Regions from separate parts of the Homo sapiens genome. Here region 2 is linked to region 1. Evidence: fine-mapped expression QTL. A gene starts in region 1. The other region holds a variant in brackets. All regions are shown on one strand. Distances are between the middles of the regions. Region 1 holds the start of PLPP4 (phospholipid phosphatase 4). Region 2 overlaps PLPP4 (phospholipid phosphatase 4).

The links.
Region 2: its variant is fine-mapped to the expression of PLPP4 in cerebellum (GTEx, PIP above 0.99). The same link has a PIP of 0.9 or more in cerebellar hemisphere.

What each region holds. Positions count from the first base shown.
Region 1 is chr10:120,454,978-120,459,466 of GRCh38, forward strand. It overlaps PLPP4 (phospholipid phosphatase 4), which reads left to right and starts at 2,250. Exons shown (of 7, transcript NM_001030059.3): 1 at 2,250-2,384. The coding sequence starts at 2,329.
Region 2 is chr10:120,573,290-120,577,289 of GRCh38, forward strand. PLPP4 (phospholipid phosphatase 4) reads left to right here. Exons shown (of 7, transcript NM_001030059.3): 6 at 1,842-2,012. Among named protein-coding and RNA genes, the nearest start is that of LINC01561, 23 kb to the right of the region's middle. RefSeq lists an enhancer at 1,838-2,337. The variant C/T (reference allele first, on the strand shown) is at 1,760.

The DNA of each region.
Region 1 (4,489 bases):
GGGGTTTCACCCTGTTGGCCAGGATGGTGTCGATCTCTTGACCTCATGATCCTCCTGCCTCGGGCTCCCAAAGTGCTGGGATTACAGACATGAGCCATCGCGCCTGGTCCAAAAGCCAGCTCCTTTCCGTGAGGCTGTGTCCTCAGGCTATCTCAGACTGATGATGTGGTTCCAACTTCTGACCTCTGAGCGATCCAGATTTCTGAAGCATGTGTTTGTGACTTATTAATACTGCTTTGCATACTTCCCTGATGTCTCCTTGTGGTCTATCAGCTCCCCATCTTCTTGAAGGCAGAGACAGATTATGAATCGTCTCACCCAGCACACAACTTTGCACAGGCTGTACTCAAACTCAGCAGATGCTTATAGGTAAGTGGTGCCCCAATGTCAGGGGCTATTGTCAGAATGCCCTGCTGGAATATGGCCACCTGACAATCTCAGACCGAGATCATCAGTGTTCACTAGGCTGCCTATGGGCTCTCCTACAGCACTTTGCCAATCCGTGGGAGTTGTTATGTCCAAGGTAGTTGCTGGGCCCAAGATACAGAGGAGACAGAAGCATACCTCCTCCCTCCAAGACCTTCCTACCTTACCTGCACCTGACACCCCATGTGCCTGATGATATATACGTGTATATATATATCATATATATAGCCATATATAATATATATGAATGAATATATCATATATATAGCCATATATATATATATATATGTATGAATAAATATTTATTCATTTACTAAGTACCAACCAGGTATCCACAGTGTGCCGGGCACTGGGCATAGAGTGATGAGGAATGCAGATACAGCTCCTGCCTGTGGTGCCTCAGGGCTGGAGTCCCTCCCACACAGAGCCTGGGTTGTTCCTACTCCCTCTGCCTCTCTCTCTCTAGACCCTGAGATATCTGGGCTCAGGTATCTCTGATCTGCACGTGTTTCCTTTGGAGGTAGGGTCTGTTTGCCCTTTGCTGATGCCAAGGGCTTCCTCCTAAGTTCTTTCTACCTGCTCCCCCTTTTATCCAGGACTGAGCCATAGCTCCTTAGTCCCAGGAACCACCTTCTAATCCGTGTCCTCTGCTCACACAATTTTGGCTGGGTCTCTCCTAAAATCCAAGAGAGGCCTGGGCTCCCCAGGAACAACCTAATGGTTATAATCACTGTGTGTTTTGCATTTTAAATGTCTGCTTGGTTTAAATTAGTGAAGCCAAGAAGTCAAAATTCTAAGAAAAGTAAATAAAATTCTGACCGGTTTGGGAAAAGCAAATCCAAGCTCCTGCTGGGCTCCAGCTGGAGGTCGTGACCCCTAGGCTGCGAGGGTTGGGCTTTTGGCTCTTAACCTGAGGATGAGGCTCTGGGTTCTACCTGCTGCCTGGCTGACGGCTGGTTGAATGCTGTGTCAGCGACGAGCGACCCTGACTTCCCACACACCGGCCAGGCCAGGGACGGTGGCAGGAGCTTTTTCATATTCCACAGTTCAGCAGCCCCAAGCTGCTGGGGGCGGAGGACAGGTGGTGGGGGAGAGAGGATTCGGTCCCCAGGGGCCACCTGGCGCTGGTGGCATGGCGGGGAGCCAGGCTTGCCTTTGCCCTCTCTCTGTGCCGGAGCCCTGGACCCTGGCTGGCATCTCCTGAGAGCAAAGCGAAGCCCGCGAGTGATCTCTGGGGAACTTCCTAGAAAAAAGAAAGAATTTCAGGTTCGAACGGTGTAGGGAGGGCCGAACACGGGAGCAAGGTTGGCCAGGGCTGCCCTGAGCCCTGGAGAATCCCCAGAGCGATCGTCCACTACATGCCCACGTGCGTGCGTGTGCCAGGGAGCGAGAGCCCGGACAGCGGGAGTCGGAGGCAGGACCAGGAGCTGCAGAGGGGCCGCGGGCAGAGCCCCAGCGAGCGCGCTGCCCTGGCGCGGAGCCCAGGGGCCGCCCACTGGCGGGGGAGGCGGGGAGCGCGCAGGGAGGCGGCGGCGGCGGTGGGGCTTCCCCGGGCTTCCCCTCCCCGGTCCGCGGGTGCCCGGCGCGGGCCCAGGAGGCGGAGGCGGCTCCTGGGGAGAGGGATCCGGGAGTCCCTGAGGCGGCCCCGGCTCCGCACTAGGAGGCGGGGTCCGCAGTATCGCCAGCGGCCGGCGCGGCTTCCCGGAGCCCCGGAGCCCGAGGCGCGAGGTTTAGGCTGAGCCCTCCCCGGCGCCTGCCCCCGCCCGGCGCCCGCCTCCGCCCCCGCCCGCGGCCTGGAGCGCGCCTCCCTCGCCTCCCAGGGTCTGGCGAGCCGGCGCCGGCCGAGCTGCGGGAGCCGCGGAGAGCACCAGCTGACGCCGCGGGAGCTGCTCCGGCCGCACCATGCGGGAGCTGGCCATTGAGATCGGGGTGCGAGCCCTGCTCTTCGGAGTCTTCGTGTAAGTAGTGGCGCACCGCGGGCAGGGCGCACTGACGCGGGGGAACAACCGACCAAGCCTCTCTGTGCCCTAACTTAGTTTGCGCAGCCGCTTCCCACTGGGGCCTGGGTTCGAGGTCCCTTCCCCGCCAAGTGCCCGCAACGTGTCCTACGGGACCAAGAGAGACCCTTCCTCTCTCCTTCCTGGGACCCTAGGCGCGGAGCGACCACCGCGCGCCGAGGCTGAGACCTGCTCCCGGGTCTCACCGGGCCCGCGCCTGTCGCCAGCCCCGCACCACCTGCCCGGGGGATCCAGGGCTGCACCTCTAAACAGGGACGCGCACCCTGGCCCGTGCCCTCGGGAAGTTTCTCCTTCTGTGTGATCTTTGAGGCCCACGTTGGAAGTCTTTACCCCTGGCCCCGTCTCCGATTCCTCCCCGCTGTGCCCAGGGCCAGACTCCTTCCGTGTCCCTGGCTTTAGCGCCCGCGGTCCTGGCGAGCGTTTTCCCAGCGGGCGTTTGCGGCGCTTCTCCTACTGAGAAACTGTTGCTGTGGAGGCTTGAGAAGTCAAGGGGCTGCAGGCCGGGGTGGGATACACACACCCTGGAGCTCTGTGCCCGGTCGATGTCCGCTTTGGGGGCGGAGGCCCTCCAGGGGTAGCCGTGAAATGCCCAGGGTGGCTTTGAGCGGCTGGCACTGAGAACAGCGATCCCGAAAAGAAGAAGGGGTGGTGGCGCAGGTTCTTTCAGAGATGCCTGAGCCTCCTCCGTGCGCCCAGGGACCCACCGCTCATTGACTTCCAGGGCCCAAGCTGCAGGGAGCTGTCACATCTCTCTTTCAGACCTGAGCCCAGAACACCAGCTCAGAGCCACCCCGCAGCCTCCCGTGAGCTGCTGTCACCTAGGCACCCACACCTGCACTGGTCCCTCCATCAGTGAGCCAAATTCTCTCCCCCTCTCTGCCCATGGATGTTTTCTGCCACATTCTAAGTATTAAAGTTACATGAACTTTTTGGATTTGCCATGCATTTATTTATTTGTTTGTTTTTGTTTTCGTTTCTGGAAAAGCCCTCCCGAGCCAAACAGGAGGCCCTCTTTGAATTTCTGCCTCAATCTGGAGTCATCCATGGCAGGTGTGCTGTGTCAAAGATGACTTCTGTTCTGGGCAGCCCAGGGGATACACATGGAAAGAAATGCCCTTTCTTGCATGTTTTTCTTTAGCAGGGATTAAATTCATCCAGAGTATTTATTCACACCATCAGAAAAGGCCATGAGCTCCCCCAGATGCAAGCAAGCCCCCCTCTCCCGCCTTCTGCCCGAACACTGGTGTTATTCACTGGGAAGAAGGAACGAGAACTTCAGTTGGATTTTGATGCATTTGGAAAAACAAAACACTCTTCCCTTCTCCTACTCTATTTTCTACCTTTGGAATGTACGTTAAAACTAATGATTGCTGTGTGATCAGATGGGGACAGTTTCTAATTGGCAGATGGGCTAAAACCTCATTAAATTATTATGTGATAGAAATGATAAACTAGTTTTCAGTGCACAGTAGAATTTAACATTTGTTGGGTGAATGTAGGAAGAATGCTGAGATAAAGTGAGATAGGCTCTTACACTATCTCACTATCTGGTTTGACTGCTGCTGGGGGTGCTCAGATAAAAAAGGGTCCAACAATATGTAAAAATATTTATAGTTTTCAGGTGTCCCTTCCAATATCCCCCCCAAATATTTATGAGATGTTTACAGATATACAATGGTCTATGCAGTAAATTTGAAAACTTGGTAATTATTGCTTATGCGCGTCTTGCTTTTTCTAAGGGTGTCATGTAAAAGCTGGACAGGCAGTTTATGTTCTGTTCTCTGAAGTTCCCTCTTGTGTTACTTAATAGGGGATCTGTTGTCACACATGGACATTGATAGCATTTTTGGATGACTCCCAGGTTTCTTATCAAGTTGTTAACAGTGTGTCCAACTTGTGGCTCTTTTACCTGCAAAAACCAGCTTTGGTATTGATGCGAGCCTCCCTAGGGGGCAGATCTTGGATGTTCAGATGCTGTTAGTATCAGGCATGTACCGACTTCTGGGAGGACGGCTGGGAGCATGCAGAAACAGATGACCCTTTGT
Region 2 (4,000 bases), 120 kb after region 1:
ATTAAAATTTTTTTTTAAACCACTGTAACTTTGTTTAATTTGGTTGCTGAAAAAAGTTCTACTTTGGTATAATCTTGTGTTTGTAACCGAGATCGCTTTTAAGAAGGCACATTCTTATCAGAGATAATTTGGAAAAGCTGCAGGTTGTTCACTGTTTGGTACTATAGTAATGATTATCTTGAACTTACAGTTTAGGGTCCTACTTGTTTCACTTAGCATGCATCCTAAGTATTGTCTATATTGTTACATAATCATGTGGTTTTCATGGTTGCATCATAGTCCATTACAAGGAAATGTCACAGCTTGGTTATCTATTCTTCTGTACTGATCATTTTCAGTTTTTCAATATTTATCAATAACTTTGAGCAGAAAATCTTCTAGATTTCCCTTACATTTTATATTATTTTCTTAAGATGGACTTTCCAAGGTCTCTTATAAAGACAATGAATGTATTTTAGGCCAAGGCTTCTCCAAGTGCAGTGTGTGCACAGATCGCTGGTGGATGTTGTGAAATACAGATTCTAACTCAGCAGGTGTGGGTTGGACCTGAGGATCTGCATTTGTCACAAATGCCTGCATGATGCCCAGACCGTGGCTCAGGGCTTTGGGCAGTCTCTTAAAGTTGCTGGTGTATTGGCATTGAGAGTATTTATAATACTCGTTTTGCCAAGTCACTGTGTGGGCTGGTTACCTAGGAGCTCCATCCCCTCAGAAGTACTTTCTAATCAAGAAGAAAGTTTGGATTAGACTGGTGTCCAGAGGGATGGGGAGCTGTAACACCTGCCTTCAATAAAAGCCTCTAAGCTTAGTTGTGGCCACCATTAGAATCATCTGGGGAGTACACACACACACACACACACACACACACACACACACACACTCTCTCTCTCTCTCTCTCTCTCTCTCTCTCTCTCTCTCTCTCTCTCTCTCTCTCAGCTCCCTCCAGACCACTACAAACAGAATGGCTGGCAATGGAACCTGGGTATCAGTATTTTTTAAAGCTTCCCAGGTATTAGAGGTGACTCTGTATAGCCAGGGTTGAGGACCATTGTTGTAAGCGCTTCCCAACTTAAATCTCACTGAGCTCCCAACTATGTTTTATACCTGCTTGGATGTAAAGCTTGGGGCTTATACATGCTACACTCAGACCTCTACACTTTCGACAATGGATTTAGCACAGCCATGAGTTGTCTTTGCAATTCAGAAAAAACAATAACCATTATTTCGGACAGAAAACAAGGTATTTGTCATCGCTGACTTCTCCATCAAACTCACTCTTTTGTAGCATTTGCTGGTCCCATCTTACTGAATGCCACCATTGTACACTCAGTCTCCCAAGCCAAAAACCTGGGGCTGATCCTAGCCCCTTTACTTTCCCATGCCCTTCAGATCTAAGCAGTTCTCACAGTCCTTTGCTCTGTATGTACTTGTTTCTTATAGAATGTATCACATTATATTAAAATTATCTCTTAGCATGGTATGTCCTTCAACTAGACCATGAGCCTCTTGACTCCAGAGATAGTATCTGATGCATCTTTTTATTCCCCACATCTAGTGCAGTGCCTGTCTAGCACAGAGTGGAGACTCCTGAAGTAACTATTGAATGAATGGATGAAATAAAATAGGTTTTGATCACATATAACCCTGGAAGATTATTCTTATGGTTGAAAGTTTCATAGCAGCATGGTGCTAGCAGGAGCACAGATTGCCTAGATAGTGCCTGGTGCCAACATGGCCTTGGCCTTGGGGGTGTGCAAGA[C/T]GGCAGACGGAATGCCCAGCACGCACTGAGTCCCTGCCACTCACCACCTGCTAGAGTAACACCTGCTGTTTCTGTTTGGCAGTTGCCTTTTCGGGCCTTGGCTTCACGACGTTCTACTTGGCGGGCAAGCTGCACTGCTTCACCGAGAGTGGGCGGGGAAAGAGCTGGCGGCTCTGTGCTGCCATCCTGCCCTTGTACTGCGCCATGATGATTGCCCTGTCCCGCATGTGCGACTACAAGCATCACTGGCAAGGTGAGTCCCTGCCCAGGGCCTGACTAGTCCTCACTGTGGTTGCCCCTCTCCTCCAGGGATGGGTGTAGAAATGCACCAATTGTGGGGAGCTAAGTGCCCATTGTCCAAAACCAGAGGAGGCTGAAATGACAGAGCGGATAAAATTTTGAAGCAAATATGCTGGTTCAAGTGAGGTCTGGCCTTCCTGGGGAAAGAATTGGAGCTCTTCTTCCTCCTTCATGCTCCAGGAGACTGCTTGAGTCCTGCCAGAATGTCAGGCCCTTTGGTTTAGTGTCACCCTTGGCCTGAGACCCAAATGTGATTTTCCTGCTGGATCACTTGCCTCAGTCCTCAGAGTTGGTGCCAAGTGGTTTTTGGCTTCCTTTGCTTATCAAATCCAGCCTACAAGGACGTATTTGTCACCATGGATGCTCTTCCGAAAGGTATATCTAGCCAGGGATTCATTCCAGTAATGCTCCAAGCAGCAGCTGCAAGCCTGGGGTGAGGTTTGCCTATATATATACATATATCAGTCCTGGGGTATTTGTTAAAAATCAAAATAACACAAAACAAGGGAGGGGCTTGTTCCTGAAATATAACTAAACCATGCCATGTCCTTCTGCAGACAAACTGCAGCTCACAGTCTGTCTGAAAGACAACCACCACCTGCCAGAGCACACAGAGAGCTGAGACGGAGGTGATGTCCATGGGAGGTGTGGCCTCCAGGAAGCATGGGGTCTAGGGAAGGGTTTCCCAAGGGCAATCCTTGGATCACCTTGATCAAGCTGCCCTGAGCTAGAAATTGGACTCTCTAGGGGTGCATCTGGAGCAGTGGCCTAGAATCTTCCTGGATAATAAGCAAGCCTGTCATTGCTGATGAAGTCTAAGAAACACTGGTAAAGAGCTCCACCATATGTGTCAATTTTAACCAAACAAAGGAAAGAAAGTGTGCCTGAATCCAGCTTCTTTGAATGAATGGGCTTCCATGATAGGTCTGTGACCCAAACCTCCTCTCCCTTTCTTGTTTTCCGACTGTTGCTGGGCATTGTTCACCTCCTTCCTCTCTCTGTCTTTGCAGCCAGCTGCCTTGCAGGACTGCCCTCTTCCTACCTTTTCCGGGGGTTTGTTGCAGTGGTAATGAGGCAATGGATGGGGACAGGGTTGAGGGGAACTCCTAGCTGAGAGCCCCTCCTTCCTCATCTTCTCTGGAGACCTTGTGCTCCTTCTAGCACTACACAGCTTCTCCTGTTCCTTCCTGGTCTCATCCCTACCCCGTATCCTCCTGGAGCTCATGCTCTGGGTGTCCTGTGACCCCAGCAGGAGCTTTGGGCTGGAGGATGAAGGGTATAGGGAAAGAGATGCTGACATGGTTTGGACAGGTGGATGCAGCAAGCATCAAGTGCTACTAAGGTCTGAGGCCCTCCTGATGGGGGAGGTCAGAAGAGGGTCACAGGTCTGAACCTGCCCTTGTTCTGTTTTTATCAATGACTTGGATGAAATTCTGGATGATAAGAAGCCGCATCATGAGATGGAAGGATGGACAGAGTCACTGGGCCAACAAAAACAGAGGCACAGCCCCCCATTGGAACTGGGAATATGTTCCCGCAGAATTGTTTCCCACCTATGTGAGTTAGGGCATTTCCCCATGAAGAATATTACGGGCCAAATGGCCTTTTATGGACTGCTTCTCATTGATCCCTTGTGAGCCAGTTTCCTCTTTGAGCACAGGAACTATCCCTAATATTTCACAGAGCTTTTCATAGATTGAATGAAATAATGGATCCAAATGTTCTTTGTAAATGGAAATTTACTACACACATGCAAAGTGGTATCATTGTTGCTTAGTACATTTTTTCTAAGGAAGGATGCATTGTGTTTCCCAAACAACTGACTTGGAGACAGACTTTTTTTTTGGAACATGATTTATTTGTAAGCTATGAATGCCAGGTTTTCACTTTTATTCAACCACTTTGGATTCGGGGAATGATTGGGGGTTTCAGAATTGAATC